Linked DNA regions of Homo sapiens: regions 1, 2, 4 and 5 are each linked to region 3. The links come from fine-mapping of genetic effects on gene expression. A gene starts in region 3. Each other region holds a variant in brackets. All regions are shown on one strand. Distances are from middle to middle.

Region 1 (5,105 bases), 23 kb before region 3:
AAGAGTTCAGGTTCTGAGGCTTCAAAGGCCCAGAGTGAATTCCATCTAGCTCCTTCACAGATTACTCTGTAATTTTCAGTTTCTTACTCTGTAGACTGGAAATACAATACCTGCCCCATACGATTGTAGTGGGGATTCAATGAAATGATACGTGTGAAGTATTAATAGTTAACATAATCCCTAGAATAAGTAGTGATTAAATGGAGAGTTTCGATTGGTTAGTGCTGACCATAAAAGGAAACACCAGACACACAAGGCAGGGTGAAAGGAAATGTCGAGAGAAGAGGAGATGGGAAAGAGAGAGAGAGAAGATTCAGCAGTGTAAGCAGAGACTACTAGAAGTGCCAGAATGGCAAGCTACAGACACTGCAACAGAAGAGAAGAGATGAATAACAGCCTGAAAGAGTCCAAACAGATACCTGTGTCACTGCACCTCAAAAGCCCAAAGCTTTTAAAGACATTATTATTCCACGTAAATGTATCTGGGGAGATGCTGTATAGGAACAGCGTAAGGTGGCAATAAACAGTCACCTGGGCTGCACCACACAACAATGCACTTGAAACAGTAAGACAATGCAAACTTTTCAGAGATTTCCATCACAATCAGAAGCTGTGATACTTAAAAGGTTAACCTGGCCTGGCGCGGTGGCTCACGCCTGTAATCCCAGCACTTTGGGAGGCAGAGGCAGGTAGATCATCTGAGGTCAGGAATTCAAGACCGGCCTGACCAACATGGTGAAATCTTGTCTCTACTAAAAAATACAAAAATTAGCTGGGCGTGGTGGCATACACCTGTAATCCCAGCTACTTGGGAGGATGAGGCAGGAGAATTGCTTGAACCCGGGAGACAGAGGTTGCAGTGAGCTAAGATAGCGCCATTCCACTCTAGCCTGGGCAACAAGAGCGAAACTCCAACTCAAAAAAAAAAAAAAAAAGAAAAAAAAGGTTAACCCTTCTCCATTAAGAAAATGCATGTACTCAGGATAATGTGTTTGCTAAGGGTTCACTGAGAATTTTTATACACAAGACCTACAATTATTTAATGTACAGAAAACAGAAAATGACTTCTTATGCTTTCACTGAAAGATCATAAAAAAAAACTGGAAACTGGCTGGGGGTGGTGGCTCATGCCTGTAATCCCAGCACTTTGGGAGGCTGAGGTGGATGGATCACTTGAGGTGAGGAGTTCAACATCAGCCTGGCCAACATGGTGAAACCCCGTCTCTACTAAAAATACAAAATTTAGCTGGGCATGGTGGCACGTGCCTGTAGTCCTAGCTACTCAAGAGGCTGAGGCATAAGAATCACCTGAAACCAGGAGGCGGAGATTGTAGTGAGCTGAGATCGCGCCATTGCACTCTAGCCTGGGTGACAGAGTAAGACTGTATCAAAAAACAAACAAAAAAGTGGAAATTCATATTTTATATATGTAACTCTACGATCTATCACTGATAGGACACAAAAGGAAAATAGCCTTGCATTCAGCGAAATAATGCTATGGACAGCACAGGTAGGCATTTTGGAACAGAAAGCAAGAAGCACTTTTCCGTCAATTTAGCTTTCCCTCGGACAGCTCTGCATACACAGAACTCATAAGCAGATCATGTCCTAAAAATCAAATAAATGCTATGCAGCGTTCTGATGATGTTTAAACAAAGAATAAATAAGACAAATTAACAATTAAAATGACTTTATTTGAATTTGTCATAAGCAGTCCTACTGATGGATCGTTATAGAAATGAAAAATACGCAGCCATAAAAAAGAATGAGTTCATGTCCTTTGCAGGGACATGGATGAAACTGGAAGCCATCATTCTCAGCAGACTAACAGAGGAACAGAAAACCAAACACTGCATGTTCTCACTCATAAGTGGGAGTTGAACGATGAGAACACATAGACACAGCGAGAGGAACATCACACACTGGGGCCTATCGGGGATTGAGGGGCAAGGGGAGGGAGAGCATTAGGAGAAATACCTAATGCATGTGGGGCTTAAAACCTAGATGACGGGTTGACAGGTGCAGCAAACCACCAAGGCACATGTATATCTATGTAACAAACCTGCACATTCTGCACATGTATCCCAGAACTTAAAGTAAAATTAAAGAAAAAAAAAGAAAGAGGAAATGTGGTACATACACACCATGGAATACTATGCAGTCATAAAAAGGGAGATCATGTCCTTTGCAGGGATATGGATGGAGCTGGAAGCCATCATCCTCAGCAAACTAACACAGGAACAGAAAAACCAAACACTGTATGTTCTCACTCATAAGTGGGAGTTGAACAATGAGAACACATGGACACAGGGAGGGGAACAACACACACTAGGGCCTGTTGGCGGGGGCATGTGAGGGGAGGGAGAGCATCAGGACAAATAGCTAATGCATGTGGAGCTTAAAACCTAGGTGATGGGTTGACAGGTGCAGCAAACCACCAAGGCACATGTATAACTATGTAACAAATGCACGCATTCTGCACATGTATCCAGGAACTTAAAGTAAAAAAAATTTTAAAATAATAAAAAATAATAATTTTGAGCAAAATAAATAAATAAAATAAACCTGAACAAGGCAACGTAAGGATATCCAGTGAGAAAACAGCCTGGCCCTTAGGAGAAATAAATGAGGTGCAACAATATTAGTTGGTACAAAAATAGCTGTGTTTTTTGCCATTTAAAAAAAACAAAACAAAACAAAACAAACAACAACAACAACAACAAAAAAAAAAAAAAAACTGCAAAAACCGCAATTACTTTTGCACCAACCTAATAAAAGAGAAAACATTCTCTACTGCTTATGTTCTTTACACAGCAAA[G/C]AATTAGTTATCATCCTTGATTAACATAGCCATTAGTTGGACATGAATATTATTCAAACTTTTCAAATAATCACCACTGCAGATATTACAGAGTACTCAATGTAGAAAAGTCTATGAGAATTTTTTTTCTGATATGATGTTTGTGATGTCATCATCACAATGACATACTTACTTGACTTCACATGAGTGGATGCTTAACTCTTTGTGTAGCAGACCACTGGTGAGATGGTACACCAGGACAGAACCATTACTTGTACCTTTCAAAATGACATCATGGAAGAGCATTAATTCAGTGGGAGTTCCAGCACTTTGCAAGAAAAGTCTTTTCTCAAGACTTTAATCACTTAACACATTTATCTTTTATAAAAGAAACCCAAACTATGTGTTTAAACAAACACACAAAGAAGAATGAATTTCTCTGGTCCACTTCCTTATAAAAAAAATGGGCCTAACCTCACGTGCTCAAAAGCCTTGCCTAATTCCAGGAATAGATTTTTCACAGAAAGACCTTAAAACTTACATTAATACACATACAATTTGAAGAAACACTTTCCTAAGCTTTTATACACATGGGAATTTATACTTTTTGAGACTCAGAAGGTTTATTATAGCTGGTCCTCAAATAAGCAATCTAGCAGAGCTCACTAACCAGGGTTATCCATTTTTCTTTCCAAAGTTTTCTTTTTGTTTTGTCTCTTTTATTAAATAAATCCTGACAAGAGAGTAAAGTATAATGGTTAACTGTGGTTTCTGCAATTAAAGAAACCTGGGCTTAAGCCCTGGCTCTTCCTTATACTCTTGGATGAATTACTTGCCCACACTAAATCTGTGTTTTCATCTCTTTAAAATGGGAAGAGTAGAAAATCTAGTTGTTGGAGATTAAATGGGGAAACATAAAGCACTAAGCACAGTAATTGGCACAAAGTAAGCACTTGGTTAACTATTAGTATTCTGTCATCACTATAATTAATAGTTTACAGGTATTATTCTAAAGCTTTTCATGGTCTCAGGTAGTATGTCTAAAGTTTAAATGTAAAGGACACGGACATACATGAGAAAGTAAAGCTTCAGTCTCTATAGTGTTTTTATAAGTTAAGCAAGAAAAGTGAACAGTCTATATGGACAATCACTTTTGCACTGCACATGATTTAAAGATTAATGAATTCATGCAAAGCAACAGAGTGGAAGTAAAAATGCTGGGCAAATTCCAATATTATCTTATTTGCTGAATAAAACTCCAGAAATCTTTTGCAAAACTATTCTAGAAAAACACATTGTACAGTTGTTTACATTTATCATCTATTTCATAATAATACCTTTTGGCACTGAGAAAATAACTAAATTACTAAAATTTTTCAATTAACAGAACTTCATAATAATCCAATGATTTCTGCAATCTGAAAGTTTTAACAATGCTGAACCTATGATCTAATGCACTAGGGGCACCACAAGGAGAATTAATTCCATAGCTGAACTCTTATTTATCTTTCTTAGTGACACCTCTAGACAAACTTTTAGGTACTTATATTTTTACTTTGTTATACTAAATTCAGTAAATGATATTCACTACATACCAATACAGCTTATTCTACAATGGAAAGCTCAGACCTTGCCATAGCTCTTATTACATAGCTATCCCAAGAAGTAGTTTTCCCCAAGAAATTGACAAAATCCTAACTGACAAATCAGGAACACTGACATAATACATACATGCACATATGAAGCACACTGATGAATCCTAATTAAAATCTATTAGTGGTGAAATATTAATCAACAGTTTCTAAAGCAAAAATTAAACATTTATCTGCATTATATAAATCGGGACACATATATAGACAATTGAATCATAAAAATCAAATCGCTTTCAAAAGATAGGCACAGAAAAAAACAGAAGGGTACTACCAAACAGTAATACCCAAATGAGTCTTTAACACTGAGAAGTCAGCCATGTTGGCCACAGAATAAATATGGTGAGGTTTTCACCACAAATCACATGTTAATAGACTGGGGGAGAAAGCCAGAAGCCAGCCGATAGCATCTTAAGAAGAAATGTTGAGTTTCAAACAAATACACTGTTTTTCAGAAGTTTTGGAGAAATGTATTTTAATAATGTGTACTTAATAGCAAACTAAATTTTGTTTTTTTCTCTATGCTGTAAAGAAAATTAGGTTCATCACATTACTATGAAATCAATGTGACAGCAAGTTGGAACCCAGATAAATTTTTCTACCTATAACATACAAATACACAATTTCACACCAAAAGGCAAATCTTAATTTATAGGGAC
Region 2 (5,105 bases), 72 kb before region 3:
GACCCTATTATCACCATTTTACAAGTGAGGCTCAGGTGATAACTTGTCCAAGGCCAGGCAGCCAGATTGCCGGGAAGCAGGTGTTCCCAGCGCCGCTGCTTTCACCCTGTTCCACATCTCTGGTCCTTGTGTTTAGAACCATTCTTGAGTGGGTTTGCCAAAGGCAAAAAGCAAAACCAAGGCTTGGCTGACAGTTACTGAGGCCCTCTGAAATGTGCATTGGCAATTCCAGAAACACAAGCTCAGATCAGATCCTTAGCATTTAAATGAACTTATGTCAGGTTTGCTACAATATGATCTGCTGGAACAGCTTTCTAACTCCTTAACGGGATGAGGTATATTTTCCTTGGCCTATTCTAGGCAAAGATCAGCAACTTCAAACAAGGAGCTGTTCTTCAAATAAATTCCTCATTGATACACATTTTTGAAGAACACTGGGAAGTAAAAACCTGGAGGACTGAATTGTGTTGTTGGGCAGATAGTTCTTAAGAAAATGATCTGCATCATGTCTGCACAAATCAGCCTTAAGAAATCTCTTGTTTCTTAGGATTCCCTCCTTTCCTTCCATAACGTACCTGTGCAAACATAGTGGTTTGCCAATTTCCTCCTTGAATTGTCTCCATTGGATTATATTGCAGACTTGTCCATTTTTCACTTCTAATTATTGTTCTACTTCCTGGCTCAGCTCTGTGGGATTATTTGAAGCCCCAGTCATTGGGCCCTGTAGGAGTCCCTGACCTGAGATGCACTTCCCAAGAGGGAGGTACGTGGGTCCCTGCACCCCATGGATTCTCTTCTACGACAGTAGTGCATGCCACTTATTTGGGACATAAATATTTTTTCATCTTCTAGCCTGCCTGAAGTATTTTGGCTTAAAAATGATGGTAGAATGCAAAAGATTGGAATAAAGTGAAGATCTCATAGCAGAACGTGTTCAGAAGTATCTGGAGTAAAATGGAGATTTGCTTAAAAATATTTGATAATGAAACGGCACTTGGAGTTAAACTTTTCAATCATCTGTTGATGCCTTTGACCTCAGATTTATCAACAATAATGTGTCCGGAATTGGTGGGTTCTTGGTCTCACTGACTTGAAGAATGAAGCTGCGGACCCTCGCCGTGAGTGTTACAGCTCTTAAGTTGGCGCGTCTGCAGTTTGTTCCTTCTGATGTTTGGATGTGTTCAGAGTTTCTTCCTTCTGGTGGGTTCGTGGTCTCCCTGGCTCAGGAGTGAAGCTGCAGACCTTCGCGGTGTGTGTTACAGCTCATAAAAGCAGAGTGGACCCAAAGAGTGAGCAGTAACAAGATTTATTGCAAAGAGCAAAAGAACAAAGCTTCCACAGTGTGGAAGGGGACCCCAGCGGGTTGCCACTGCTGGCTCGGGCAGCCTGCTTTTTATTCTCTTATCTGGCCCCACCCACATTTTGCTGATTGGTAGAGCCGAGTGGTCTATTTTGACTTGGCGCCGACTGGTGCGTTTACAATCCCTGAGCTAGACACAAAGGTTCTTCACGACCCCACTAGATTAACTAGATACAGAGTGTGGACACAAAGGTTGTCCAAGTCCCCACCAGAGTAGCTAGATACAGAGTGTCGATTGGTGCATTCACAAACCTGAGCTAGACACAGGGTGCTGATTGGTGTGTTTACAAACCTTGAGCTAGATAGAGTGCCTGCTGGTGTATTTACAATCCCTGGGCTAGACATAAAGGTTCTCCACGTCCCCACCAGACTCAGGAGCGCAGCTGGCTTCACCCAGTGGATCCCGCAAAGGGGCTGCAGGTGGAGCTGCCTGCCAGTCCCGTGCCGTGCGCCCGCACTCCTCAGCCCTTGGGTGGTCGATGGGACTGGGCGCCTTGGAGCAGGGGGCGGCGCTCATCTGGGAGGCTCCGGCCGCATAGGAGCCCATGGAGGGGGTGGGAGACTCAGGCATGGCCGGCTGCAGGTCCCGAGCCCTGCCCCGTGGGAAGGCAGCTAAGGCCTGGCGAGAAATCGAGCTCAGCGCCGATGGGCTGGCACTGCTGGGGGACCCAGTACACCCTCCGCAGCCGCTGGCCCGGGTGCTAAGCCCCTCATTGCCCGGGGCCGGCAGGGCCGGCCGGCTGCTCCAAGTGCGGGGCCCGCCAAGCCCACGCCCACCCGGAACTTCAGCTGGCCCGCAAGCGCCGCGCGCAGCCTCGGTTCC[C/T]GCTCGCGCCTCTCCCTCCACACCTCCCTGCAAGCTGAGGGAGCCGGCTCCGGCCTTGGCCAGCCAAGAAAGGGGCTCCCACAGTGCAGCGGTGGGCTGAAGGGCTCCTCAAGTGCCGCCAAAGTGGGAGCCCAGGCAGAGGAGGCGCCGAGAGCGAGCGAGGGCTCTGAGGACTGCCAGCACGATGTCACCTCTCAATAAGACTAAGGTCAGCCTGGCGGATAAACCTTGGAGTCTCCTGGGCCCATTCCCATGGCAACATGGGCCTATGAAGAAGCCAGATGGGACGGAGCTTATAACAACAACCTTCTAAGGAGGTAGGTTCTAATGCACCTAGCTGCAGAAAAATTACAAAGGACCTCATACCAGTCTGTAAACAATACGGCAGTTAGACAGCTGAGATTTCATCACCAGGAAGCATTTCGACCCTAGAGAAGGAGTTATTGAACTATTTTTCTGTAAAGGCCCAGAGAGTAAGTATTTTAGGCTTTTCAGGCCACTTGATTCCCTTCTAGCTTTTCAACCCTATCATTGAAAACAGTCAGACAATGAACAGGTGGGCACAGTTTTGTTGCAGTAACACCATATTTCTAGAAAGAGGCAGGGATTCGGGCTGCCGGCTGTGGTTTGCTGACCCTAAACCTGCAACATCACTGACCAGGAACAGGAACAGGAACAGCAGAGGCCGCATCGTGTGTAGCTTTTCTCGCTCTGCTTTCACGTCGGCTGCCTTGCTTCAAGTGGTGGCTCACGCCTGTAATCCCAGCGCTTTGGGAGGCCAAGGCGGGCAGATCACGAGGTCAAGAGATCGAGACCATCCTGGCCAACATGGTGAAACCCTGTCTCTACTGAAAATACAAAAAAATTAGCTGGGCATGGTGGCATGCCCCTGTAGTCCCAGCTACTCGGGAGGCTGAGGCAGGAGAATCTCTTGAACCTGGGAGGCAGAGGTTGCAGTGAGCCAAATAGCGCCACCGCACTCCAGCCTGGCTACAGAGCGAGAGCTCCGTCTGAAAACAAAAACAAAAACAAAACAAAACAAAAAATACCCTAACTGCAAAGCGAAAATTGACCCCTCTGGTTACATTTTGTTTTGGTTTTGGTTTTTGAGACAGAGTCTCGCTATGAGCCAGGCTGGACTGCAGTGGTACGATCTAGGCTCACTGCAACCTCTGCCTCCTGGGTTCAAGCGATTTTCCTGCCTCAGCCTCCCGAGTAGCTGGGACTGTAGGCACATGCCACCACACCCAGCGAAGTTTTTCTATTTTCAGTAGAGACAGGGTTTCACCATGTTGGCCAGGATGGTCTCGATCTCTTGACCTTGTGATCTGCCCGCCTCAGCCTCCCAAAATCTGGTTACATTTTTAAGGCAGTGATTACTGAGGATTGTCTTTTTATCTGTTCTTAAATTCTCAACGATTTGTTCAAATCCTGTCTTTCTGAAGCAGCCCATCAGAGCCTCTTTTTTTTTTTTAATTATACTTTAAGTTTTAGGGTACATGTGCAGATTGTGCAGGTTAGTTACATATGTATACATGTGCCATGCTGGTGCGCTGCACCCACTAACTCGTCATCTAGCATTAGGTATATCTCCCAATGCTATCCCTCCCCCCTCCCCCCACCCCACCACAGTCCCCAGAGTGTGATATTCCCCTTCTTGTGTCCATGTGATCTCATTGTTCAATTCCCACCTATGAGTGAGAATATGCGGTGTTTGGTTTTTTGTTCTTGCGATAGTTTACTGAGAATGATGATTTCCAATTTCATCCATGTCCCTACAAAGGACATGAACTCATCATTTTTTATGGCTGCATAGTATTGCATGGTGTATATGTGCCACATTTTCTTAATCCAGTCTATCATTGTTGGACATTTGGGTTGGTTCCAAGTCTTTGCTATTGTGAATAATGCCACAATAAACGTACGTGTGCATGTGTCTTTATAGCAGCATGATTTATAGTCCTTTGGGTATATACCCAGTAATGGGATGGCTGGGTCAAATGGTATTTCTAGTTCTAGATCCCTGAGGAATTGCCACACTGACTTCCACAATGGTTGAACTAGTTTACAGTCCCACCAACAGTGTAAAAGTGTTCCTATTTCTCCACATCCTCTCCAGCACCTGTTGTTTCCTGACTTTTTAATGATTGCCATTCTAACTGGTGTGAGATGGTATCTCATTGTGGTTTTGATTTGCATTTCTCTGATGGCCAGTGATGATGAGCATTTTTTCATGTGTTTTTTGGCTGCATAAATATCTTCTTTTGAGAAGTGTCTGTTCATGTCCTTCACCCACTTTTTGATGGGGTTGTTTGTTTTTTTCTTGTAAATTTGTTTGAGTTCATTGTAGATTCTGGATATTAGCCCTTTGTCAGATGAGTAGGTTGCAAAAATTTTCTCCCATTTTGTAGGTTGCCTGTTCACTCTGATGGTAGTTTCTTTTGCTGTGCAGAAGCTCTTTAGTTTAATTAGATCCCATTTGTCAATTTTGTCTTTTGTTGCCATTGCTTTTGGTGTTTTAGACATGAAGTCCTTGCCCATGCCTATGTCCTGAATGGTAATGCCTAGGTTTTCTTCTAGGGTTTTTATGGTTTTAGGTCTAACGTTTAAGTCTTTAATCCATCTTGAATTGATTTTTGTATAAGGTGTAAGGAAGGGATCCAGTTTCAGCTTTCTACATATGGCTAGCCAGTTTTCCCAGCACCATTTATTAAATAGGGAATCCTTTCCCCATTGCTTGTTTTTCTCAGGTTTGTCAAAGATCAGATAGTTGTAGATATGCGGCGTTATTTCTGAGGGCTCTGTTCTGTTCCATTGATCTATATCTCTGTTTTGGTACCAGTACCATGCTGTTTTGGTTACTGTAGCCTTGTAGTATAGTTTGAAGTCAGGTAGTGTGATGCCTCCAGCTTTGTTCTTTTG
Region 3 (5,085 bases):
AGAAGTCATGCACAAAAGACCACAAATTATATGATTCAATTTATATAAAATCCCCAGAATGGGCCAGTCTACAGACACAGAAAGTAGGTCAGTGGTTGCCAAAGGATGAGGGAAATGGGGGAAATGGAATATGACTGCTAGTGGATATAGGGTTTCTTTTTGAGGTAAAAAAGTTCATTGTAATTGTGGCTGCATTAACTGTGGATATACTAAAAGCCACAGAATTGTGCATTTTAAGTCAGTACATTTTATGGTATGAGTATCTCAATAAAGCTATTATTTAAAAAAGAAAAAGACTCCAAATCTCTATCTCTAATCCTGACCTATCTCCTAAAGCCCGGATCACTATAATGCAATATATTACAGGCATCTCAGATTTTGCATGTTGAAAACTTAAAAATTCACTGACTTCACAGATGCTTACCTCTGATAACTGGAAACACTGTCATTCAATTACACCAAAAGAAACCTTGGAGTCACTCTATTCTCTTACTCTCCTTTATACTGATCACTATAAAGGCTATCAGGTTTACCTCTTTGCTGCTCTTAAACATGACTTCTCCATGCCCCAGCTTTATTTTAGGCCCTTAGAATTTCCCACCAAAATTACTGCAGAAATCTCCTAAATGATCTTACTGCCTCCAGTCTTGCATTTCTTCAGCAGATCCTCCACTGCTGCCAGAGTTTTTCTAAGACGCGAATATGGTCACATCAATCTCCTACTCAAAAATCCAAATTCCTGCTGGGCGCGGTGACTCACACCTGTAATCCCAGCACTTTGGGAGGCCAAGGCGGGTGGATCACGAGGTCAGGAGCTCGAGACCATCCTGGCTAACATGGTGAAACCCGGTCTCTACTAAAAATACAAAAAATTAGCTGGGCATGGTGGTGGGTGCCTGTAGTCCCAGCTACTCAGGAGGCTGAGGCAGGAGAATGGCGTGAACCCAGGATGTGGAGCTTACAGTGAGCCGAGATCATGCCACTGCACTCCAGCCTGGGCGACAGAGTGAGATTCTGTCTAAAAAAAAAAAAAATCCAAACTCCTTCGTAATCTTACAAAACTTCAGGACAGACAGCTGAATCTCTCTGGCTGCCTCTTATTTCATCACTCCTACAAGTGTCCCATCTTTAGCCATCTTTATGGCACGCTACTTACTTCTGTGTATATTCTTGCTTTTCCCTGCAATGCTCCTTGTCAATTTTTTACTTGGCTAACTACTGTCTACTAGTCTTGAAACTGTAGACTTCTGTGACTCTCCTCACAACCAGGCAATATGCAGCTCCTCTGTTTTCTCACAGCGTGTTACGCAAGTCTCACTTATCACACTATCACGCTGTGAGTCTTCCTTATAAGATGGAGAATTATCTGAGGGCTTTCATCTCCATATCCATAGCATATGGTAAGTGCTCAAAACTAAGGAATGACTGAGTGGTCTTGTAAATGGTAGAACTTTCATCTGCCTTAAAATGATCTAACAACTAGCATTTAATAACTCACCCTGTATTGACATTAAGTCATATATATGAAAATTCTAGGCTACCCCAAATAGGTTGTTATATTTAAAAGCTATTCAACACTTACACGTAAGACTTAATGAGAGCTTAGTGATACACAGTATTAAACTTTAGACTAGACAACATGTTAGCGTCAAAGTGGGATTTTACTTACCTTTACAACATCAGCTTTATGCTTTTCTAAAACTTGAAGAGTTTGGGCAGTAATGGAATCAATCACTACCACAAGTGAATGACATCCATAAGCAATTAAACCTTGCCAGCCCCTAGCAAAACAGTAATGTTAAAGTTTAAGTACAGAACAAAGCAGGACGACTTCTTTCTTGCCAAGCCTAAATAAATGATAAGTCTAATTCATATGTACCACCATTAATAAAATCATTTAAACCCAAAGGCCAGTATTTATCATTATCCCACTTAAATAAAAGATCTGGCTAAGCTTAAAATGCTTGTTGAAATTCACTTTTCATTCGGATAAAAAAAGTTCTAAAAGATATGAAAATAGAGACCCGAGGACATAAAAAGGAACTTGTGCCCTCTGACTGTTCTTGTAGGCATACGTCTTTCGCTTATCCGATTTCTAATCCTTAGTATCCACAATGTGCCTGGGGATACTGCGACTAATCCTAGTCCTTCCAACTAAATAAAACGACAAACACTGCACAAGACGTTTCAGTCCTCCTAACAACATCCCACAGCCACAGAATTTTGCTTTACATTTGTCTAATGAGTAGTTTTCAGAGCTGCAGTAGTAATTTATAGTGAAAGGAGAGAGTAATAAAGACGACCTGTTGAAGGCAGGAATGTTCTACACAGGAGGAGCCCGAAAAGAGGTGAAAAGGACAGGTGAAAGAACAGGCGCCTAGCACAGGGTCTGGCACATTGTTGAAAGACAACAGGAATACAAGACAACGAAAAAGAAAAGACAGGATGGGAAAGAGAAAGTGCACAGGGAATTAATGGTGGAGAGAGAGAAGCCTGGAAGCTGGAGGAGAGGAAAAGAGAGAGGAATGGAACGGCAAAAGGGCGAGGTGCAGAGAAAACAGCAGAGAAATACGCGAGAAAGAGGGGAAATGTATTTGCATGGGGGAATTTCCCACACGGGGCTATTATCACTTTTGTAACAACAAAAATCCACCAACTGAAAGCAAGCTCATTGCGTGAGGGCGGCTCCCTGCCTTAGCGAGGCCAAACTAACCAGGGGGTGAAACCTCTTGTCCTTCCCCCTTCCCCCTCACACATTCCTGGCCGATCCTGGCGACCTGGAAGCTCGGCGTCCTCACCAGTCCACCGCCGCCTTGTTGTGGGCGTTGAGGGCCCCCGTGAGGGTGCGCGCCGACACCTTGAAGTTCACTGTGTAGGGCAACATCCCGGCGGCCAGCCCAGGACCTGGGCGCTGACCCGCAACCAGGAAGCGGCGGACACTGTGCTTCCGTTCCAAACAGAGTCCGGGTGGCCCCCTCGGCGCCGCTGTCAGGTTCCTCTAGATTCAAGTTCTACAGGCTCCGGGTTCCACCGCTCCCGGATTCCATCGCCCCCAGGTTCCGTTGCCTTCAGTTTCCTAGGATCCTAGGTTCCGCACTCTCCAGAGTTCCGCCGCTTAGGCGGTTGTGCTAATCTGCGTCAGCTGGGGCTGTATTTGGAAGAAGAGGCGCTGCCTCCAGTCAAGTCTGTTTTTTTCAGGTGGGGACTGTAGGCCTTTGTGCCCTGCTGGAAATCGTGAAAAGCAAGAGAGAAGAGTCCCAGTTATTCTTGCTGCCTTTGATAAGTGAATTTAGGGCAACTACTAGTGCCAGTAGGCATGGGGGATCTACCGATGAAGAAGACACAAAGTCTCCGCTCTCGTGGAGTTTACAGAGAATAATGAATGAGATTAATTAAGAAATGAATGAGATTAATTGAATGAAATTGCCAGACTGAATGAAGTGAATGGCCTGAATATAAACAATTTCCAAATACAGATAACACTGCATATCTGGTGTTTGCAATACTCCCTTCGCACTTGAGGAAGAAGCACTATGTCTGGGGCCAAGTGTGACCCTTTGTCTGTTGCTGGGTACCTTTCATTTCGCACTTTCTCCTCTGCTGCTCTCCAGGTCAGACCCAGTCCTTCCCTCCTTTGTGTTCAGTGTTGGGTTTATACGCTTTAACTATAGCACTTAATGCAATGATTTCTTTTCAGCAATGATATTTGCAGATGTGTGTTTCTCTCCCCAATACATTGTTAGTTTCATGCGCGTCCGTGTGAAGAGACCACCAAACAGGCTTTATGTGAGCAATAAAGCTGTTTATTTCACATGGGTGCAGGTGGGCTAAGTCCGAAAAGAGTCAGCGAAGGGAGATAGGGGTGGGGCTGTTTTATAGGATTTGGGAAGGTAATGGAAAATTAGTCAAAGGGGGTTGTTCTCTGGTGGGCAGGGGTGGATCTCACAAAGTACATTCTCAAGGGTGGGGAGAATTACAAAGAACCTTCTTAAGGGTGGGGGAGATTACAAAGTACATTGATCAGTTAGGGTGGGGCAGGAACAAATCACAGTGGTTGAATGTCATCAGTTAAGGCTGTTTGTACTTCTTTTGTGGATCTTCAGTTACTTTAGGCCATCTGGATGTATACATGCAAGTCACGGGATGCGATGGCCTGGCCTGGGCTCAGAGGCGTGACATTCCTGCCTTCTTATATTAATAAGACAAAACAAAATAGTGTTGAAGTGTTGAGGCGGCGAAAATTTTTGGGGGGTGGTATGGAGAGAGAATGGGTGATGTTTCTCAGGGCTGCTTCAAGTGGGATTAGGGGTGGCGTGGGAACCTACAGTGGGAGAGATTAAGCTGAAGGGAGGTCTTGTGGTAAGGGGTGATATTGTGGGGATGTAAGAAGAAACATTTGTCGTATAGAATGATTGGTGACGGCCTGGATACGGTTTTGGATGAATTGAGAAACTAAATGGAATAAGAGAAGGAGAAAAACAGGTATAAAAGGTCTAAGAATTGGGAGGACATAGGACATCTGATTAGAGAGTGCCTAAGGAGATTCAGCATAGTCCTGCCAGCAAAGATTATTTATTTACTTCAAGAGTTTAGAGTGGCAGTTTGGGGATAGCACCAGGAGATATCAGCTGTGATGGCTTGGAGAAACAGTGTAAACCGGCAGTGTAAACAAGAGCAGGGCATGTATGAGTAGTTGAGAATGGTGAATAGGAGTATGACTACAAAAGATAGGGATGACAAGTTTTTTGGGGCACAGTCTAAGTTGGTCTGGTGTCAAATGAGACTGGGGCCTAATAAAAAGGAGCGTCTATACAGGAGCTTAAATGGGATGTACCTTGTAGCATTCTGAGGACAGGCCTGAATTCTGAGAAGCGAAAGTGGTAAAAGTATTGTCCAGTCCTTTTTAAGTTGGTGGCTGAGCTTGGTGAGCTGTCTTTTTAAAAGACCTTTAGTCCGTTCTACTTTTCTTGAAGACGGAGGCCTGTAAGGGATATAAAGGTTTCACTGACACCTACTAAGAGCCTGAAAAACTGCTTGGCTGATTTGACTAATAAAGGCTGGTCTGTTATCAGACTGTATAGAGGT
Region 4 (5,105 bases), 43 kb after region 3:
GCAGTGTGTGGGCAGCCCAGGCATCGGCTTGGTGTGAGGGAATCTATTTCCGATAGGGGACCCAGGGCGTTTGGGGCTGGGGCAGTGGCTATCAGCTTGCCCAGAATTATCCAGTGGCCTGAGGCAATGCTCCAGGAGTGCTTAAAGCAACTGGCCTCCTTGGCTCCCACTAAGTAATGCTGAGGTCTGTCAGTGGAATTCATTTTTCTAGCATTCGCACCAAAAGTGTCCAGGCAGCCTACAGTAAGCAACACATCACTGGTGGGGTGCCCCAGGCAGATTGGAGAAGCTGTGGCCACATAGAGTGGGGGAAAGAGCAGGGGACCTCCCTGAGCCTCAGTTTTCTCCTCTGTAAGTGGAGTGTGCTGACTCCCCAGGATTATGCAAGAGTTGGAAGAGCAAGGATGTTGGGGAAATGCTGGGCAAGCAAGCAGCAAGTGCTCAAAGGATGCTGAAGCCAGGGCTTCCCTCCCTTCTTTCCTTCTTCCTCTCCTGCTTAGCATGGTGTTGGGTCCAGGAACAAAATAATCTAGAATACAAAAAGTGTGATAGGTGAGCTGTTGGGAAGGGCTGCAGGATGGGCTGCTGGCAGCCTTCCAGCTGGGGAAGTCAGGGAGGCTTCCTGGAGGGGTGGCGGCTGAGCTGGCTAGGATCCAAATGTGAGTATTCCTCCTGGGGAAAAGCAGCAGCAAAAGCAGCCTTGGAAAGAGGAAAGCAGGGGATCCAGGGCCCTAATTCAGGGAGGGAGTTGTGCATAATAGCAGGTGTGACAGCCAACAGAGGGAATGGGAGGGAAACTGGCAGGAGGAGGGTCTGAACTTACACTCTTTACAGAGCCTCAGCTGGCTTTTGAGTTTGCACGGAGTGTAGGAAGTGAGCAAATCAATGTATGCTTTGAGAAAATTAATTTGGTATAAGTTCCTCCTGAATTTCATTGTGTTTGATATGAAAATTTAGCCTTGGGCCAGCACTGCATGGAATTTTTAAAGTGCATCACTTCACAGATTAAAAGGGGGCCCTCTGCTCCTGATACCCTTATATAGAGAGTTCTACTTAATTTTACAGAAGGGTACAGTTTAACCTGCTCTTGTTCCATGCAACTCGGAAAAATAAATTATTTAACCAAGGATATGCTTTAGGGCATTATGTTTGCCTTTTTTATTTTAAAAATTGTTTGTCCTTCTATTTTCACGCCTTTAGTTATTCAATACAGCCTTCCTTTTACTAAAATCATGTGCCTGTCCTCTTGAAACTGAAAAACTTGTCTAATGTCATAAAACCATAAGGGAAGAGTGTTCTCTGCCCCAGATTTTGGCCTATATGCCTCTTTTTTCTGTTTAGTCTTAATTGAAAGATTGTTTTATACATTGTTCTTTTTCCCCATATCTATTTTTGTTTTTTCTAGTCTCATTTCAGAACTCACTCAACCATTTCTGCTTCTCAAAGAGATGCTATTCTGTTGATAATAGAGAAATCTCCAGGTGCACTGCCATTATCTAATTCTGGGATATTATTAAGAGCATTTAATTCAAACAATCATGTTTTATTAGAAAAGAATGACTAAGTCTTTGATTGAATTGACTAGGGCATAACTATTTTAGGGTTTGTTATTAGAATTTAGAATTATCAGGCAATTTCTATGGCTGTTTGAGGTGTCTGTTTTTACTTGTAATAACGATTCTTCTAATAAAACCTTCTGTAGGATAGTGTTTTCTTCTTATTAAGGGGCTGATATGCTTTATTTAATATAATCATCTTAATGCCTCAGGAAGTTTTCTATTACTTTCATTATAAGATTAGGGAAACCCAGGCATGGGACTTATATGACTTACCCAAGCAGGTGACACCTTCACTTGAACCTTCGTTTGCATTCAGGTTTTTTTTTGTTTTTGTTTTTTTTTTTTTGAGACGGAGTCTCATTCTGTCACCCAGGCTGGAGTGCAGTAGTGCGATCTCAGCTCACTGCAGCCAGCCTCCGTCTCCTGGGTTCCAGCAATTCTCCTGCCTCAGCCTCCTGGGTAGCTGGGATTACAGGTATGCGCCACCACGCTGGGTAATTTTTGTATTTTTAGAAGAGACAAGGTTTCACCATATTAGCCAGGCTGGTCTTGAACTCCTGATCTCAGGTGATCTGCTTGCCTTGTCCTCCCAAAGTGCTAGGAT[C/T]ACAGGTGTGAGCCACCGTGCTGAGCCTGTCTTCAGGTTTATAAGCCAATTCTCCTTCTGTAGTTATGTTAATGCTAAGCCCATGTGTTACATGTTATCCCTGAATTTGTGAATCCCAGAAAAACTGGCTGTTGTGGAACAATTTCTACAGAAAAAGAGGGCTAGAAATGTTTTCATTGGATACTGATAACTCTGCTTCAGTGTGACCTTTAACTAAATTATAACCATTATCATTCATTTTAATAGAGTTGATGTGATGGTGGGGACCAATGTCAATCTATTATTATGAATCATTTTCTGTATCGTGAAATCAATACCTTTTCTCTCATTACTATTTGTATTATTTTGGTATTGTTATAGATAAGTGTTCCTCAGCCTCCACTCTATTAACATTTTGAGCCAGATAATTCTTTCTGTGGGGAGCTGTCCTGAGCACTGTAAATGTTTAGGAGAAGCTGTGGCCTCTACTCAGTAGATGCCAGTAGCACCTCTCACCCCAGTTGTGACAACCAAAAAGTCTCTAGGTGTTGCCAAATATCCCCTGGGGGACAAAGTCGTCCTTTGTTGCAAATAACTGCTGTTGATGATATAGGAATTAAAATATTTTATTCTCTTAAGCTATTGAATTCTCTAACCTAAACATGCATTATTAATTACTTTGAAGCACACTTACCCATTGATCCTCCTATCATCAATAAGAATCCGTTGAGAACATCTTCCAGTACAGAGAGGAACCAACATCTGGTTAATTCAAACACAACCCCTGGGATCAGGTAATTAAACATGTTCTTAACTAGCTGTCTTACCAAAATCAACACAAACTGCAGTTTCATCCATCTTAACTACAGAGCATGTGTTTTTCTAGTAATGTTCCTTGTCAAGCTTTTAGAGCTGAGAATTGAGAAAACAAGCCAGAATCGGCATCTTTGGTTGCATAATAAATGTGTTTGACACACATCAACCTGAGTACTCTGCAAATTTGATAATCATTTCACCAATTTTTGTGTTAGATCATTTCAAATGAAGCAACCATTTATGATGGGGTAGGAGGAAAGGAGGTAAGGGTCTAGGGAAAGAGACATACACGAGAAAGGGAGGACAAAGAATTCTGGAGGGTGCCTACATGAGGCATGTATTTCTGGATTCCAGGTTGATAGACAAGAATCAATAGGCTGTGGTTGTTAAATATACAGTCCGTAGACTAGACCATCCAGTTCACATCTCAGTCCTTCTACTTATTAACGATGAACTTGAGCAAGACATTTACATTTTCCCTGCCTCACATCTTATGGTGTTGCTATCAGGATTAGTGAGTTGAAAGAAATAAGGCACATAGAAGAGGAGCCAGCAGATAGTTGCTTAATGTTACTTGTTATCCTTAAAACAATATAGATAGCTTTGCATATAGAACTACCCGTCGACACAGAGCTGGAGAGAGGCAGTGTGTGGTCTGGTGGCTTGGGTTTGGAGCTGAGCCCTGCCATTCATTGCTGGGTGACGTCTGGACCTTGGTTTTGTCGGCATAAGTTGGTTGTAAAGATTAAATGAGAAAAGGCAGGTAAAGCCCCTGGCGAGGGGTCTGGTACAAAAAGCAATAAATGCCAGTTTCTTTCCCCAGGCTTGAAGACTGATGCCTAATTCTGGCTGGTTATGAGACCCAGGAAGATTACTTAAAATCTCAGATCCTCAGTTTTCACATCCATGGACTTACCAGATCGATCTTTCCATCTGTCCATTCAATAAATTTCATTCAATCATCACTAAGTTGGCCCAGACTAAGTCCTGGAAATCTTTAAATCCCTCATTTAAAAAATATGGAGAATTTCAAATGTCTGAAAAACAGATTATGCATAACCAACCCCCATTTACCCACCACTCAATTCGAGTAAGCCACCTTTCAGCTTTAGACTTCAGAGGGCCCTTGAGTTAGGATGGCATGGAGGGTGGAATAAAAATATCAGGGGGTTTCTGTTAACTCCAAGTTTAATACGAGTTACCAGTATAATGTGGCTATAGCCCAAACTAATAACTCCCCTTAGCCTACGTTAAAACAAGCATCACATTTAGAATAAAGGCGATGATGCTCTTCTCTTACAAGCTGCTCAGGCCTGTCCTGGAGTTTTCCGTTCTGTTTCCTCATCACATTCAAGAGGCCCCTACATCAATAAGAAAAGGTCAAGAGGAGAAACAGCAGGATTGTTACACAGCTGGAAGCCATGAGTACTGATTATCATTGTCACTTATTAAGCTCCTGCTGTTTGCAAGCTGTATGGCAAGTGCTTTCTATAAATTATTGAATTCTCATAAACACAAAAAAGTAGATGTTATTGCTTTCACACCATTTTATGGATGAGACAGAGTATAAGATGAAACTGAGTAAAAGAAAATTTGAAATTCATCTCGTTCACCCAGTAGGTCACTGAGCAGAGACTTGAACCCCAGCAGTCTGGTTCCAGGACCCACATCCTGAGCCCTACACCCCAGCCCCAGGAGGCTTAACCTAGAGAAGAGAAATTGAGCTCCACAATCTTTCTTCAAATTCCTTGGAAGGCTGTCTTGTGGAAGCCCTCTTTGATGGACTTTGTGTGGCTCCAAAGGGCAGATGCAGGTTCTAGGTGTAGCAGTAACAGGCAGTGGGTTTCATTTCAACACAAAGTGCTTTTTATTCCTTAGCGCTATTCAGCACACATGTGGCTTGGGAGGCAGTGAGTTCCCTGTCACTGGAGATGTGCAAACAGTGGGGTAGTGTGGGAAGCAGGAAGAGAACAATCAGGCAGATCTGATTTGCAACCTGATTCTGTCACTTACTAGCTTGGCGGCTTGGACATAATACTACTTCTCTGAACCTCAGTTTCCTATCTGTAAAATGAAAATACTTAACTTAAAAGGTTGTTTTGAGAATTAGAGATGCTATTTACAGAGGTCCTGGCTCATGATAAATA
Region 5 (5,105 bases), 55 kb before region 3:
ATGACCTGGCCTCATGCACAGCAATGCAGAGAACACAAAGGCCTGGATGGAATTTTTAATTTATTTATCATGTTTGTAAGTTACAGACATTTATGTTTTCAGCAACAGTTTATAATAGTTACATCTCATACTTCAACTATTAGAACAGAGAGAACATTAAAGTACAAAGAAAGACTTCAAAAATGAGGTTACTGTGATGTATCATAAAAGGAGTTAAAATTCAAAATATCAAAGACCTCACCTATCGGACTAAACATAAATCTTAAAACCTCCTATGGTCCTCTGAGCCTAAAATTACAAAACTTAGCAACTGCTTAAACCAAGGAATTAACGGTTCTGTGTTTTCAAGGTAAGAAAACAAAAAATGCTTTGGTAAACTACCTTTAATACTAGTTTAAATGTTTCTGCCTTGTTTGTATCTCTCTTGAAAGACTGTATATAAGTACAGGCACAGCATATATTTGAGAAAACATCTCACAAATTTCATTTACTATAGGTTTCTCAATAATCTTTACATTTAATCAATGAGAAAAGTGATTCAGTCTCTTGAATTTTAAGTTAAAAAAATTAAAAAGTATTTCCAGGGACTCTTAAAGCTCTCTCCCAAAGTATAAAATATTATGTACTTTCAAAATCTTAAGCATTCACGTTCTTTCTGAGACCAACGCAGGATACAAACTTACTCTCAACATAGATGCTTATGTGCTTTTGGGCACACATAGTCTTAGAACAGTGGTCAAACAGCTCACAGGACCCTGTACTCCTCTTCATCCTGGACTGTGACGGTGGCCACAGCCAGACCAGCCCCCTCCCATCTGCCTTCCAGGTCAGATTCCCTGGCATTTATTAAGCTGTCACTCTTCAATGGGTTCTTCCTTGGGGGACTCAAGCTCATTCAATAAGTCTTTGCCAGCTGCTCCGGCTTTTGAAGCAAAGAGAACTGCTCCCTGCTTAAAACCGAGGTTCTTCAAACTCCGGGCATAATCTGCATATATAGCAGTGATGAGTTTCTGTAAACCATAGTTAAGGAAAAGAAGAGTAAAAAGGGCTGTGATGAGACTCTTCACAGGCTCCCAGAAGCAGGAAGGGTGAGTCGCGTCTGCTCTGCTGGCTGCTCGGAAGGGACCTGGTGTCCACAGCGGGCAGCACAGGATGAACACAGGAGACTTTTCGCGGGCAGAGGGTGATTCCCGGCCATAGTAGGCCATGTCTCAGTCTGTACCATCATTACCTTTCGTACCAGCTGAGTCCAAAGCTTCTCCTTCCAGAAGACCCAACCAACATCCTCCCATAACCTACACTCAACTGAAGATTGGAAGATGAATGATAAGAGAGGAGAAACTTAACCTGCATATCCTCATTCCATTTGAAAGTCTGAGAGGCTGGCAGTTTGGGGGCAGATATTTATTTCTGAATGTTCCCTATATCTGGTTGTTGGGTTTTTAGAAAGCCCTGTCCTATTGGTTTTTTTTTATTTATTTTTATTTTTTTAAACAGCCTATTGGGTACTCTGTGCTGATGCTTTGATCCTCAAAATGCATACACTGAACCAGTCACCTTCCCAGTGACTAGGTACATGATCTTGAGTAGGCTCAGCCTTCAGTTTAATTTTAAAAAACTTTCAGTGCAGGGCTGGGTGGCTCATGCCTGTAATCTCAGCACTTTGGGAGGCCAAGGTGAGAGGACTGCTTGAACTAGGAGTTCAAGACCAGCCTGGGCAACATAGTGAGACCCGGGTTACTACCAAAAAAAAAAAAAAGCCAGGCACAATGGTGTGGACCTATGGTCCCAGCTACTGGGGAGGATGAGGTGGGAGGACTGCTTGAGCCCAGGAAGTCAAGGCTGTAGTGAGCCATGATCGTGCCACTCACTCCAGTCTGGGCAGAAGAGTGAGACCTTACCTCAAAAAAAGGAAAAAAAAAATTTTTAGTTTAGTTTTAATTCTCTGTTAAAAAAAAAAAAAAA[T/AT]TATAAACACACACAGAGAAAGAGGGAGAAAGAGAGAGAGAACCAAGTACCTGCCATGTAGAAATGAGAGCAAATGTAAGAATTTGAAGCAAAGTGCAGTGAGCAGCAGCAGGACCATGCAAGCACTGGCCCAGTTTCATTCTTTTCTGGTCCTGGGAGTTGCATTCTCAAGTTCATTCTTTTCAAAGAAACCAATGTTGCTCAAGTGCCATTTAGAAGAAATAAAATGTTCTGGCTGATGGGTGGATTATAGTGGCTGGCCTGAGCAACACCTCTCTTTAAGTGCTGTATTTTGTCCCATATCATATTGTCACTAGAGGTGATCGTGAGACTTTTTTAGTTATTCCAGTATATTTTTTCTAGATAAATATATAAAATTTATTCCATGGAATGTCTGGTCTTGAAAAAGTACTATTTCAAAGTACCAGGTCCTTCTACCTGTTTCCCAAATCATTCCTTCATCTTCTTTTTAAGTTCAGACAAGACTTGGGGGCCCTGTCCTCTATAGTCCTTCCTGCCTCCCTCCATCCTAGTCAAAGCTGACACCCATGGTGCAGCCACCTTCTTATCTGATTCTTTGTCCTCTAATTTCTCCCTCTTTCCTGGCTTTGGTGAATCAGAAAATCAGAACATGGATCTTTCACAATATAATATAGTTCCTGTCCAGGCAGCACAACTAAGGGAAATTCCAAAACCCATGCATGTCACTTTCTTCCTCGTCACTACAAACAACCTTGCAAAGGATATCTGTGTCCTCAGTGACTTCAAATGCTCCATACTTGAGGCAAGCTTCCACAAATAAGGCTGCTCTATCAAAGTATCTCATGCTGCTCAACAGAACAAAACAAGAGTTATGCTTTGTGATTTACATCACTGGTGGGCAGCAGCATCGAAGGGTATAAAGACATTTACACATTTTCCCTGGAAACCTGCATACTGCATTAAGATACAAGCACTTTTCTAAGCCCTAGTTTGTTGAAAAAAGGAGGGAAGAATACTCACATCTCCAAACACAAGCTTTTTAAAATTAATACTTTAAAAAATTGTGAAATAGTTTAAATACACAAAAATCTACAGAGATATGACAAGTGCCCATGTACCCCTGTCCAGAGTTGACAAGTAATCTTTTGTCATATTTCCGTAATCTACCTCCCTTAGTTTTGAATAAATGAAATGCTCCACAATTAGTGATGGTTGTTCCTCTTCCAGATTTTCAGACGGGATGTCTCCACCTCACCATGCCTTCTGTCGCCTCTCCCCCTGCTCTCTGGGCCTCCTCTCAGTTGCTCTAGTCAAAGCTGAATGGACCCCAATTCTCTGAAGACTTTTAAATTCCCTTTTACTAGGTGCCTGTTAAGTCTGATCAGCATATTAGTAGGAAACTAGCATAGCTCCTAGACCGAATGAAGATGTAATGAATACGGACAGTTCCATTCTCCTTTGGGTTTTTTGACAAACCTGAAATGTATACTTCTCCTTTCACTTTACACATCGAGTACCATGACCTGCTAGAACCGCGAGAGAACATGAAGTGACTGCTCACGGGCAGGCCTGAGCAGCCCATGTGAACTCTCGGTTTACCTGTGAAGCGTCTCTGCCACGCTAAAAAAGCAGCCCAGAGAGAGGAGAACCAGGAGAGCCTTTGATTTCTGATTGACTTGTGGAGAACAAAGGTGGTCAACCCACCGCCTTAAAACATCGGCACACTCCTCAGGATTCAAACGGACCTGAGAAAGACGCCTGTGTTAACAACAAAAACATCCTGCACTCTATAAAGAAAAAATAATAATTCAGTTAAAGTGAGATCTGTTTCTATGAAATACAGGCTATGCTCTGCTTGACTAGCACACTGCCCTGAAGCTGCTGCATACTCTGAATAATGATAACGGTCTGTGCCTACGGGACCCAGGGCCTGGCTATACCTCTGGACTGTAGTTTCGGCTCAGACTCTGGGAGAAAGAGGAGGCAGCTGCTTTTACTTAATTGCTACCAATGCAAGATCCATTTTTAAATAAGTAATGCAATTTACACTCATAAAGAATAGGAAAAGGATAAAGGTTCCAAGACAGTATTTGCAAAGCAGCTTTGCAGGCCAAAAAATGTTTCTAAGTCATAAGTCCAAAGTTCAGGACTGAGCTTTCTATCCCGAATGTTGAGGGCACCTATTGAAACTTGGAACCACCTACTTTTGCCAGCCATGCAGCCCGATTCCACTCGCCGTATGTCTGCAGGTAGCGGCAGGCGTCTGCAGCCTTATCTATCAGGCAGAGCAACTGAACGCCCTCTGAAAGACAAAAGCGCATCCCCTTAAGTGACACTGCAGCTCCTTCTTTGAGAAGTCATTAAAAAGTTAAATCCCCATTTGACCTTATCTAGTCGTGCCCATTTTATACCTACTGAAGACATTCTTGATTTAAATTCTGAAACATAATATTAAGAGTTTTACTGTTATTACTCAAGTAACCAGGGTAGGAAGCACAATACAGTCTGGAGAATAAGTAGGGAGAGCATAGTTCTCTCACAGGTTTTATTGTTCTGATTTGCCTAGGATTGTTGGATTTATGCCTATTATCTCAGCAATTATTAACAGTGCCCCCTTTCACTCTGAAAAGTGTAAACAATTAATTCTGGTTTAGACAATTATATTCATCTGATTTATAGGTAGCAATAATTTTTCTATTTTTCTTCAGCATATGTAAAAGAGAAAGAAATGTCCCTACTAATCAGATACTTTGCTGGGAACAAGGTCTCATTTTTCAGAGAGATGACAAACATATCAAGTGTGCCTTACCTGCCAATTTGCCATTGGCAATCATATTCGTTGCCACCAACTTAATGGTGCTCTGAGAGGGGCCTGACGAGGTGACAGTAGTGACTAAACAGGCTTTCAGTGAATCACAGTAATAATGCTGGTTATCTGCACTTGTTTCCAACAGCAACTGCACAGCTCTGTCTGTCTAGTAAGAGAAACGGTTTTTCTAATTATGAGAACATTTTCCTCCAACATAACTTTTTAAAATTCATAAGGTAGAAAACTAAAGGAAAACACTCATTTTCAAAAAATGCAATTGAATATTTTGTTTACAAATACAAACATTAAACAGAGGTGCTACACTACTTTTTTGAGACAAACATAAAGC

Which allele goes with the higher level. Positions count from the first base shown, and alleles are read on the strand shown. Sizes are in standard deviations (SD) of each study's normalised expression. Not every link is listed here.
In carriers of allele AT in region 5, the expression in activated naive CD4 T cells of the gene that starts at base 2,943 in region 3 tends to be higher than with T alone (large effect, 0.76 SD a copy in Schmiedel 2018).

What was found.
Region 1: its variant is fine-mapped to the expression of WDR11 in lung (TOPMed, PIP above 0.99). The same link has a PIP of 0.9 or more in aorta, atrial appendage, coronary artery, esophagus muscle, fibroblasts and lymphoblastoid cells.
Region 2: its variant is fine-mapped to the expression of WDR11 in whole blood (TOPMed, PIP 0.97).
Region 4: its variant is fine-mapped to the expression of WDR11 in whole blood (INTERVAL, PIP above 0.99).
Region 5: its variant is fine-mapped to the expression of WDR11 in activated naive CD4 T cells (Schmiedel 2018, PIP 0.95).

What each region holds. Positions count from the first base shown.
Region 1 is chr10:120,871,809-120,876,913 of GRCh38, reverse strand. WDR11 (WD repeat domain 11) reads right to left here. Exons shown (of 29, transcript NM_018117.12): 11 at 2,991-3,075. Among named protein-coding and RNA genes, the nearest start is that of WDR11, 23 kb to the right of the region's middle. The variant G/C (reference allele first, on the strand shown) is at 2,819.
Region 2 is chr10:120,920,917-120,926,021 of GRCh38, reverse strand. The region is part of intron 2 of LOC105378519 (a long non-coding RNA gene); the gene reads left to right. Among named protein-coding and RNA genes, the nearest start is that of WDR11, 72 kb to the right of the region's middle. The variant C/T (reference allele first, on the strand shown) is at 2,184.
Region 3 is chr10:120,849,220-120,854,304 of GRCh38, reverse strand. It overlaps WDR11 (WD repeat domain 11), which reads right to left and starts at 2,943. Exons shown (of 29, transcript NM_018117.12): 1 at 2,799-2,943; 2 at 1,670-1,781. The coding sequence starts at 2,884. WDR11-DT (WDR11 divergent transcript) reads left to right here and starts at 3,126. Exons shown (of 3, transcript NR_033850.1): 1 at 3,126-3,611. RefSeq lists enhancers at 2,459-2,518, 2,213-2,756, 2,529-2,998, 3,159-3,278, 2,757-3,301.
Region 4 is chr10:120,806,064-120,811,168 of GRCh38, reverse strand. The region is part of intron 2 of LINC02930 (long intergenic non-protein coding RNA 2930); the gene reads right to left. The region is part of intron 1 of WDR11-DT (WDR11 divergent transcript); the gene reads left to right. Among named protein-coding and RNA genes, the nearest start is that of WDR11-DT, 43 kb to the left of the region's middle. The variant C/T (reference allele first, on the strand shown) is at 2,164.
Region 5 is chr10:120,904,463-120,909,567 of GRCh38, reverse strand. WDR11 (WD repeat domain 11) reads right to left here. Exons shown (of 29, transcript NM_018117.12): 25 at 4,757-4,922; 26 at 4,152-4,249; 27 at 3,547-3,692; 28 at 2,713-2,792; 29 at 44-1,012. The coding sequence ends at 855. All of the region lies in intron 2 of LOC105378519 (a long non-coding RNA gene), which reads left to right. Among named protein-coding and RNA genes, the nearest start is that of WDR11, 56 kb to the right of the region's middle. The variant T/AT (reference allele first, on the strand shown) is at 1,966.